Homo sapiens: one gene and its partners. The protein of the gene in region 2 purifies or fractionates together with the protein of the main gene of each other region. This does not show direct contact. Each region holds a gene or a part of one and is shown on either strand. Other genes may lie near its edges.

Region 1 (3,463 bases), on a different chromosome or scaffold from region 2:
TCGTTATATAGCAAAGCATTTTTCTTTTTTCTTTCTTTTTTTTTTTTTTTTTTTTTTGAGACAGCATCTTGCTCTGTCACCCAGCAGGCTGGAGTGCAGGTGGTATGAACACTGCTCGCTGGAGCCTCAACCTCCTGGACTCAAGTGATTCTCCCACCTCAGTCTCCCGAGTAGCTGGGACTACAGGCACATGCCACCATGCCCGGCTAATTTTTTGTTTTTTGTAGAGACAGGGTCTTGCAATGTTGCCCATACTGGTTTCAAACTCTTGGCCTCAAGTGATCCTCCCACCTCAGCCTCCCAAAGTGCTGGGATTACAGGTGTGAGCCACTGTGCCTGGCCCCCAAGCCTATAATTTTTTAATTTATATATTTTTCTATACTTAACATATACTTTTTTTTTTTTTGAGACAGTTTCGCTCTTGTTGCTCAAGCTGGAGTACAATGGGGCGATCTCGGCTCACTGCAACCTTTGCCTCCCAGGTTCAAGCCATTCTGGCTCAGCCTTCCCAGTAGCTGGGATTACAGGTGTCTGCCACTATGCCCGGCTAATTTTTGTATTTTTAGTAGAGACAGGGTTTCACCATGTTGGCCAGACTGGTCTCGAACTCTTGACCTCAGGTGATCTGCCTGCCTCGGCCTCCCAAAGTGCTGGGATTATAGGCATGAGCCACCGCACCCGGCCAACATTTACTTTTCTATAGGTATTATATTTCTAGTTTAAAAAGAAGGTTAGAAAGAGAAAAACCAAAACTTTTATTAATCTTTATTTTAAAACATAACCAGATGCACCTTGGTTGTTTACATTCTCTGGTTGCCATTCAGTCTCAAAGTAAACACTGGGAGCATATGATAAATCGTAGTTTAAGGAAGCCATAGCACTTACAGAGTTCTCAAATGGTTACAATATAAAATCTGTCATAAAAATCAGTAAAAGATGCAAGGTAGAACACATTTTAACACTGGTACAATGGCAGTAGCAGCTTTGCAAATGTTTGTCTATATGATTTCCACAGGACTTTTTTTTTTTGCCTGGCCTCATTATGTAGCAAAGCATTTTTTCTTTTCTTTTTGAGATGGAGTCTTGCTCTGTTACCCAGCAGGCTGGAGTGCAGTGGTATAAACACAGCTCACTGCAGCCTCAACCTCCCGGGCTCAAGTGATTCTTCCACCTCAGTCTCCTGAGTAGCTGGGACTACAGGCACACATCACCGCTCCCGGCTAATTTTTCGTTTTTTGTAGAGTTGGGGTCTTGCAGTGTTGCCCAGGCTTGTTTTGAACTCTTGGCCTCAAGCGAACCTCCTGCCTTAGCCTCCCAAAGTGCTAGGATTATAGGTGTGAGCCACTGCACTGGGCCATAAAGCATTTTTCTTTTTCTTTCTTTTTTTTTTGAGACAAGGTCTCACTCTGTTGCCCAGACTGTAGTGCAGTAGTGTGATCTCAGCTCACTGCAACCTCCACTTCCATCGTTCAAGTGATTCTCACGCCTCAGTCTTCTGAGAAGCTGAGACTATAGGCACATGCCACCACACCCAGATAATTTTTATATATTTTTTTTGGTAGAGACGGGGTTTCACCATGTTGGCCAGGCTGGTCTCAAACTCCTGACCTCAAGTGATACACCCACCTCGGCCTCCCAAAGTGCTGGGATTACAGGTGTGAGCCACTGTGCCTGGCCCCCAAGCCTATAATTTTTTAATTTATATATTTTTCTATACTTAACATATACTTTTTTTTTTTTTTTGAGACAGTTTCGCTCTTGTTGCTCAAGCTGGAGTGCAATGGGGCGATCTCGGCTCACTGCAACCTCTGCCTCCCAGGTTCAAGCCATTCTGGCTCAGCCTTCCCAGTAGCTGGGATTACAGGTGTCTGCCACTATGCCCGGCTAATTTTTGTATTTTTAGTAGAGACAGGGTTTCACCATGTTGGCCAGACTGGTCTCGAACTCTTGACCTCAGGTGATCTGCCTGCCTCGGCCTCCCAAAGTGCTGGGATTATAGGCATGAGCCACCGCACCCGGCCAACATTTACTTTTCTATAGGTATTATATTTCTAGTTTAAAAAGAAGGTTAGAAAGAGAAAAACCAAAACTTTTATTAATCTTTATTTTAAAACATAACCAGATGCACCTTGGTTGTTTACATTCTCTGGTTGCCATTCAGTCTCAAAGTAAACACCGGGAGCATATGATAAATCGTAGTTTAAGGAAGCCATAGCACTTACAGAGTTCTCGAATGGTTACAATATAAAATCTGTCATAAAAATCAGTAAAAGATGCAAGGTAGAACACAGTTTAACACTGGTACAATGGCAGTAGCAGCTTTGCAAATGTTTGTCTATATGATTTCCACAGGACTTTTTTTTTTTTGCCTGGCCTCATTATGTAGCAAAGCATTTTTTCTTTTCTTTTTGAGATGGAGTCTTGCTCTGTTACCCAGCAGGCTGGAGTGCAGTGGTATAAACACAGCTCACTGCAGCCTCAACCTCCCAGGCTCAAGTGATTCTCCCACCTCAGTCTCCTGAGTAGCTGGGACTACAGGCACACATCACCGCTCCCGGCTAATTTTTCGTTTTTTGTAGAGTTGGGGTCTTGCAATGTTGCCCAGGCTTGTTTTGAACTCTTGGCCTCAAGCAATCCTCCTGCCTTAGCCTCCCAAAGTGCTAGGATTATAGGTGTGAGCCACTGCACTGGGCCATAAAGCATTTTTTCTTTCTTTCTTTCTTTTTTTTTTTTTTGACACAGGGTCTCACTCTGTTGTCCAGACTGGAGTGGAGTGGTGTGATCTTGGCTCACTGCAACCTTCACCTCCAGGATGCACATAATTCTCGTGCTTTAGCTTCCTGAGTAGCTGGGGCTATAGGCACATGCCACCACGCCTGGATAATTTTTATTTTTATTTTTGGTAGAGACGGGGTTTCACCATGTTGGCCAGGCTGGTCTCAAACGTCTGACCTCAAGTGTTTTGCCCGCCTCAGCCTCCCAAAGTGCTGGGATTACAGGCGTGAGCCACTGTGCCAGGCCTTTTTTTTTTTTTTTTTTTTTTTTGAGGCAGGGTCTGGCTCTGTTGCCCAGGATGGAATACAGTGGCACAATCTCAGCTCACTGCAACCTCTACCTCCGGGGCCCAAACCATCCTCCCACCTCAGCCTCACAAGTAGCTGGGACTACAGGCACACAACATCACACCTGGCTAATTTTTTTGATTTTTGGTAGAGACGGAGTTTTCATCATGTTGCCCAGGCTGGTCTCAAACTCCTGAGCTCAAGTCATCCACCTGCCTTGGCCTCCTAAAGTCCTGGGATTACAGGCGTGAGCCATGGTGCCCGGCCCTAGCATTTTTTTAATGATCTCTTATCCCACAAGAATGGTCAAGTCATTTAGCATTAAATGAATAGAGTACACAGTGGTTTACAATATTATAAACATTATAAGCGCCCCATAAAATATTATTGTTATAAATACT
Region 2 (3,731 bases):
TCTTTGACCACACTGGCAATGTCCTCCTTATCCTGGCTGGTGAGGTCAGGAGCGATCTTCACCAGGACTGCCGGCCTGTGCACTCTCCGCAAGCCATCCCTCTCCTGCAGCACCTAGGGCGACACACGGCCAGAGCTGGGGACCCCGCAGACCACAGCCCTGCAGTGCAGCTGTGACCTACGCTGCAGGTCAGTGGGTTTCCACAATAGCGATCAAACTAAAGCAGAAACAATTTCTTTTCAGGAAAGCCAGCCCTCAGACGTGAGGAGTACAGTCGAGATGGATCCGATTCCATTCTTTTAGGCCAAGGGATCCCGTGGACATTGGCTAATAGCTCAAGGGTGTTTTAGACTTTTCTTTTCTTTTTTTTTTTTTTTTTTTGAGACAAGGTCGCACTCTGTCACCCACACTGGAGTGTAGTAGCATGATCACGGCTCACTGTAGCCTGCACCTCCCTGGGCTCAGGCGATCCTTCCACTTCAGCCTCCAGAGTATCAGGGACTACAGGTGTGCACCACCATGCCCAGCTAATTTCTGTATTTCTTGTAAGATGGGGTTTTGCCAAGTTGCCCAGGCTGGTCAGCTCCTGAGCTCAAGTGATCTGCCTGCCTCGGCCTCCAAGTAGCTGGGGCTATAGGCTTGAGCCACTGTGCCTGGCTAATTTTTAAATTTTTGTAGAGACAGGGTCTTGCTCTTTTGCCCAGGCTGGTCTCAAATTCCTGGGTTATAAGTGATCCACCTGCCTTGGCCTCCCATAGTGCTGGTATTACAGGCATGAGCCACGGTGTCCAACGTTTTTTAGACTTTTATTCCTAAAAGATAACCAGGAAATATTACCACATGTACTGGGTGATGAAGTCCTTCAGTTCACTCAGAGCTCTGGGCGCTAGGGTCAGAGTGACAAATGAGAGAGACGTGGTGTCTGCTCTTACAGACCCCGTGATTTATAGCAGCAGGGACAGATAATTTGTCACCGTCGCATATAATCAGTGTCATGAGAGGGGATCAGAGGGGACTCTGGGAAGGTATAGCCAGGGGTCCTACTGGTCTAGGTGCTAAGGACAGCTTCTGAGGGTGATGCTGAAGGTTCGCCCTGGAGAATGAAGGGGAGCAGGTGGGACAGGCTGGTGGGACAGGGCCTGGAGAGGGGTGCAGCTGCCCACCTTGGTCAGCAGGCGGCGCAGCTCGGCCTTTCCCTGAAGGCTCCGCAGCCCGGCAGTGTTGGGGCTGGACACATTCACCACCAGGTAGTCGGCCAGGGGGCCCAGTACGCGCACCCCTTCTGCGTAGTCCTCCGCGGCGTCCACTGAGGTCTTGTTCTTCCCCAAGTTGACCCCCAGAGGCAGTCCATCTGCAAACATCGCTGGTCAGGCCTGCACCCCGCACACCCTTTCCTGTGCCACCTTCTGAGGCTGCCCTTGACCAAACCACCTGTGGACAGCCGCGCAGGCCTTCCCTCCAAACCTGACCTGCCCGACACCGGCTGACAGGTGCTCAACTGCGGCCTGGGCCCGCCTGCTGACCAAAACCACTCACTGGCTTTGTCTAGCAAAGTCTGGGCAGCTACGAGGATGTTTTGCTGCATTTTGCCCTTTTTATTTTTAAAATTTTCATGGAAAATGGACAAATTACTGCAAATACTTGTGGGGCAAAAGATGGGCCTCATAAATTGAATAAAACTGAGAACAGAGAGAACTCAGTAGGCACATCAGGCCCGCAACTCTCACCTCAAGGAATGCTTGTTGGCCTTGGCTCGGTTGACTGGATGTACAGTTGCGAAGAAAAAACAAAATGAAAGAACATGTATAAAATACTGAAAAACAGGCCAGGTGCGGTGGCTCACGCCTATAATCCCAGCACTTTGGGTGGTCAAGGGCAGAGGATTGCTTGAGCCCAGGAATTCAAGACCAGTCTGGGCAACATGGTGAAACCCTATCTCTATAATTGAAAACTCAGCCGGGAGCAGTGGTGCACACCTGTAGTCCTAGCTGCTCGGGAGGCTGAAGTAGGATTGAGGCTCCAATGAACCGTGATCGCGCCACTGCACTCCAGCCTAAGGAGCAGAGCAAGACTCTGTCTCAAAAAAAAGAAAAAAAAAAAAAATATATATATATATACACATATATATATATATATATATATATACACATATACATATACACATATATATATACTGGAAAATGTTTTTTGTTTTTTTTTTTGAGATGGAGTCTCACTGTTGCCCAGGCTGGAATGTGGTGGCACAATCTTGGCTCACTGCAACCTCCGTCCCCTGAATTCAAGCAATTCTCCTGTCTCAGCCTCCTGAGTAGCTGGGATTACACGCATGTGCCACCACGCCCAGCTAATTTTTGTATTTTTAGTAGAGATGGGGTTTCACCATGTTGGCCAGGATGGTCTCCATCTCCAGACCTCATGATCTGCCCACCTCAGCCTCCCAAAGTGCTGGGATTACAGGCGTGAGCCACTGCAACCGGCCTAATTTTTGTATTTTTAGTAGAGAAGGGGTTTCACCATGTTGGCCAGGCTGGTCTCAAACCCCTGACCTCAAATGATCCGCTTGCCTTGGCCTTCCAGAGTGTTAGGATTACAGGCGTGAGCCACCATGCCCGGCCAAATGTTTTCAATTATCATGCCTAAAATGTAGAGGTGTAATTGTTTTCTAACTTATAATTTTAGTTCTCTGAGGAAAGGGACTCTCCCTCATATAATAACTGAGGGTACCCTGTATCTTAGGTGCTCCCTGGACAACCTGATTACTCCCCTAGCCTGGGCATCATTGTTAACACCTGCCCCTTTTTACTCTCAAGAGGGTCTCAGTTTACATGTAAGCAATTAGGTCAGCTTACTTAAAAATCCACAGGACTATCAATGGACTTGCATTTTGGACCTCCAGAAAAAATACATTTTCAGAAACACACTATGTGTAAAAGAAACGGGTTGTCTCTACTTGACTTCTTCTAAGTTTACTATCTTATCTGCACGGGGAGTGGTACATCAATGGTACAGGCTGTACTTTTGATCTGAGAGTTGGGGGAAGAATTAGAACACCAAGTAGCTCACAAAATGTGTTGTCAGGCCAGAGAGGATCAAACAACATCTATTGTACTGCTCACCACCTTCCCAACCCCAATCACACTCTCGCATCATCAGCAAATGAGATGAGTGTAGCTACTTTCCAGGGTGGGGACTGGAGGAGGGGATCAGAACCCAATTAGAAGCCGGGCGCAGCAGCTCACGCCTGTAATCCCAGCACTTTGGGAGGCTGAGGTGGGTGGATCAATTGAGGTCAGGAGTTCAAGACCAGCCTGGCCAACACGGTGAAACCCTGTCTCTACTAAAAATATAAAAATTAGTCAGGCATGGTGGTGGGCGCCTATAATCTCAGCTACTTGGGAGGCTGAGAAAGGAGAATCGCTTGAACCTGGGAGGTGGAGGCTACTGTGAGCTGAGATTGCACCACTGTTGCCTGGGCAATAGCGGGAGACTCTGTCTCAAAAGAAACAAAGAATCCAATTAGACAAAAGGTTTATCATAAGGTCTCCAAGCTTCCCAGTCTAGCACCCATCAAGCCAAGATCATCTGTAAGCTTGAATTCTTTTCCTCACAAGTAAACTGACTTGAAGGAGAATATCACTTTCATGTAGCTAACGGATTAGGAGTCATCTGCCCAAACTGACAAGATTTGGGAGTTAGACAGAAATTGCTGGATTACTCTGTCCCCAGAGGGC
Region 3 (3,879 bases), on a different chromosome or scaffold from region 2:
GAACAGGGAAAATGGTATAATATCAGGTATGTGGAAACACTCTCATGGGGAAGAATGCTACTACTTTGAGACAAAGTACCTTAGGTGAGAATATTGTTTTAGTGCTTCTATCTATAGAAGAGTTCTATGGTTCGCCAATAGTTTTTTAAGTTAATCTACTGAAAAGTACAAGTCCACAATCCCTTATCCAACCCCTTGGGCTTATTTGCATTTTGGAATTGTGAATTCTGAAGAATTTTTTAAAGCACCCAATAGCGGTCATAGTCTTATTTAGTGAATACCATAAATAGCTTCAACAATTCAGATCAGGTTTTTCTGCAAAGTGAGAGATGACAATATTCTTTTCAGTTTTTTTAAATTTTAGAATTGCAGGTTAAGAGACTGTGGACCTCTATAAATTCATGTAGGAATAGAAACAAGTCATCCGAAATTTAAGAGACCTTCCCTGAACCATCCCTCTTTTTGAAAAATTTTGACTCTTATATGAGAACCACTGAAAGTTTAAATATTAAAACAATAAATCTTTATTAAACAGTTTTCACGGCATTTTAAAATAAATTTAAAAAATAAATATTTGCATTATAGCAGAAAGTCACATGTATTGCATCAACTCACTTTTACAATTTAATGGCATGAGACAACTAAGCATCAGCACCATAAAACTGTTAAGATTTGTTTCTTAAATTCAAGGAAATAGCTCTAAAGCACTGCAGCATCAATAATTTTGAAAGCTATAACCCAGTGATTGGTGCTCATAGTAGCCAATGTTTCTTTTTATTACTGGCAACTGTGGAGACAGAGTTCTTCCAGTACTAAATATTAATAAGTTCTCTGATCGACAATCCCCCATCTATCAGTGTGTCAGGATTCACAAAGAAAAGAACTGCAGGTTATGTAGTATATTCCCTATCTGTGATTTAGGTTTGCACAAAGACACTTATTCTAGCAAAAAAGAAAAGATAGTGTTTCCACCATGCTACCTTTTTTTTCTTTTTATAGAGTCTCAGAGTAAGATTTAAATCATAATTTTTAACCTTTAAAAGTCTGTTCAAGTTCAATTACAACCATAGAAACTGTACTGGTATCAGAACATAACTATTTTATTACAAAACTTAACATTATTTACAAAATGAAAAAATAATCAAATGACTATTGCAGGCCAAAGTTAAAGGTTTTTCACTCAATGATTGAAGAAAAATTAAGCAATATTTCCATGCACTCACACCAGATCATTTCTGAAATATGCAAACTCTTAAAATTCATGTTAGTAAAACTTTAATGTATTCATAATACTTGCTATGTTTATTAGAAGATGGTCAAAAAAAATCCATGGTTCTGTACAATAATATTAACAGTTTGTTCATTTTCCTTTAATATTTTTTGGCTTCCATGAACACTCGTAGATTGAACATTCTGCAAGTAAGAATTATAATAGTACCTCTGTCACCTTGCTGAATTCATCACCACAAGAAAAACACAAATAGTTTAATGCTTTTGCACTAAACTGAATAGTTATAACTCCAAAGTTATATTAAACTGAAGCCTTCATTGTGATCAATAGCTTGGATCAGTTTAGAGCGTAGAGTTTCTTTTTCTGTATATTTTGGAAGATCCAGAAGATTAAAACAAGTATGGGAAACTGGGAGATACTCCTCACCACCTCCTGTGGACTGGATGACTAGTTTCAGACTCTTCATACCAAGAATAGGAATGCGATCACTACCTGTCAAAAATACTGCCAAGAAAGAAATCATTCAGTCAACCACTTCAAAACAAAAAGATACAGTAGCAAGTAATATTTGGTACAGTCGCTACAGCAGAGCTTCACTTTAACATCTGCTCTAACGTGTTATCTTACTTCCTAATTTGTGGAAGACAAGTTTTTTGAGACACATTCTAATTGCTCATCCACACAATATTTTTTCTTTAAAAGTATAATCTTAATACTGGCACAAAGGAAGTGCTTAATAAATGTTTGATAAGTGAGTATTTTGCCATTGCCAAAACATTTTGAGAGCCCTTTTTTGGAAAAGCCATTCAGAACTAGTTGACAAACCAAATACAAAATGCAGTTTTGATTATGATTTCTTTTTCTATTTGCTTCGTTTCTGTTATTTTTTTTAAATCAGAAATTTATAATGGGCAGCCAAAATTCAAATCATTCTTTTTTTTTTGAGACGAGTCTTGCTCAGTTGCCCAGGCTGGAGTGCAGTGTGCGGTCACAGTCACAGCAGCCTCGACCTCCTGGGCTCAAGCAATCCTCTCTACCTCAGCTTCTGGAGTAGCTGGGAGCACAGTCACCAAGCCCAGGGCTAATTTTTATAGAGATGAGGTTTTGCCATGTTGCCCAGGCTCAAATCACTCTTAAAGAGTAATGATTTCTCATCCTTATGACACACAGAAGAATTTGACCAAGATTCTCGGAGGTTGCCAAATCATTCCTGGCAAAAGCAGGAGTATCAAAGGAAATGTCACCGATTTGGACACATAAATTCTGACAACTTTAAAAATAAGTCAAATTTCAATTAGAATACAGACTTTAACAGAAGAAAGATACACAGGCATCAGTTATAAATGAGGGAACTAAGGCCTGAAAAAGCTTTATTTTATATAGAAATTGCCAAAGTTTTAGTCTTGAAGCAAAAAGAAAAAGAAAAAGAAAATGAAGACCAAACAGAGAAAAGAGCAATACAGTTGGCCCTCCGTATCTGTGAGCTCTGTATCCATGGATTGAACCGACTGCAAATCGAAAATATTTTCAAAAAATGGATGCTTGTGACTGTACTGAATGTGTCAACTGTTTTTCTTGACATTGGTCCCTCAACAATACAGTATAACAACTATTTACATAGCATTTACATTGTATGAGGTATTAATAACATGTACATTCATGTGTCACTTAACGATGATGATATGTTCTGAGAAATGCATCATTAGGTGATTTCATTCTGTAAACATCATATATTTACACAACCTAGACAGTATATAGTCTACTACACACCTAGGCTACATGATATAGCCCTATTGCTCCTAGGCTACAAACCTGTACAGCATGTTACTGTACTGAATTCTGTAGGTAACTGTAACATAACAGTAGGTATTTGTGTATCTAAACATAGAAAAGGTACAGTAGCTGTATTATAATCTTACAGGACCACTATCGTATATATGGTCTGTCATTCACTGAAAAGTCATTATGTGGCACATGACTGTAATCTAGAGAAGATTTAAAGTATAAGGATATGTGTAGGTTATATGCAAATACTATGCCAATTTATACAAGAAACTTGAGCATCTACTGGATTTGGGTATCCTTGGCAGGGAGGTCTTGGAATCAATCCCCCATGTATGCCAAAGGATGACTATACTCCAGAGATCTTTTTAGAAATCTAAAAGGAATTCTACAATCCTAGTTTATTGTAACCACAGTTTATTGTAACTATAACATAGCTATAGTTTGCTTTCATTTCCAAGTTAGCTTCCATTTTACTTCATAGAATGAATCAATGCTATTTTGAAGGCAAACTGAATTTAGCCTTTGAAATAAGAAAATACATGTACTGAAGAGTGCAGATAGTTCTGTTTCAAAAAAATTACTTGAAGATTAAAACAGGGCTTTGGAATAATACTATAATTAGATTCCAGTCTCATAAAGTATACAACTAGTTAGAAATACTTACACAGAAACTGTTTCTTCTTTTCCAATGGTAATTCGTGAAATACTTCCCAAAAAATTTTTATCGTAGGATGTTCTGCCCAATATTCCCCTTTGTATTCTGTATTCTAAAAACAACATAATCTTTTATTAGTATTAAGGGACACACTGGCTAATATATTAGCACATAAAGCTAACATGGTCCAGTAGTTTGCAACTTGTGC

Evidence for each region.
Region 1: the proteins of DHODH (region 2) and PRR11 purify together in Homo sapiens (affinity purification with western blotting; one study listed by BioGRID). This does not show direct contact.
Region 3: the proteins of DHODH (region 2) and HERC4 purify together in Homo sapiens (affinity purification with western blotting; one study listed by BioGRID). This does not show direct contact.

What each region holds. Positions count from the first base shown.
Region 1 is NC_000017.11:59,203,978-59,207,440, reverse strand, and holds the end of PRR11 (proline-rich protein 11), read right to left. Parts: 3' UTR 732-3,463; downstream 1-731. UniProt on the Homo sapiens protein: Plays a critical role in cell cycle progression.
Region 2 is NC_000016.10:72,018,744-72,022,474, reverse strand, and holds part of DHODH (dihydroorotate dehydrogenase (quinone), mitochondrial), read right to left. Parts: intron 1,352-3,731; coding exon 1,164-1,351; intron 114-1,163; coding exon 1-113. UniProt on the Homo sapiens protein: Catalyzes the conversion of dihydroorotate to orotate with quinone as electron acceptor. Required for UMP biosynthesis via de novo pathway.
Region 3 is NC_000010.11:67,921,405-67,925,283, forward strand, and holds the end of HERC4 (probable E3 ubiquitin-protein ligase HERC4), read right to left. Parts: intron 3,784-3,879; coding exon 3,681-3,783; intron 1,736-3,680; coding exon 1,527-1,735; 3' UTR 501-1,526; downstream 1-500. UniProt on the Homo sapiens protein: Probable E3 ubiquitin-protein ligase involved in either protein trafficking or in the distribution of cellular structures. Required for spermatozoon maturation and fertility, and for the removal of the cytoplasmic droplet of the spermatozoon.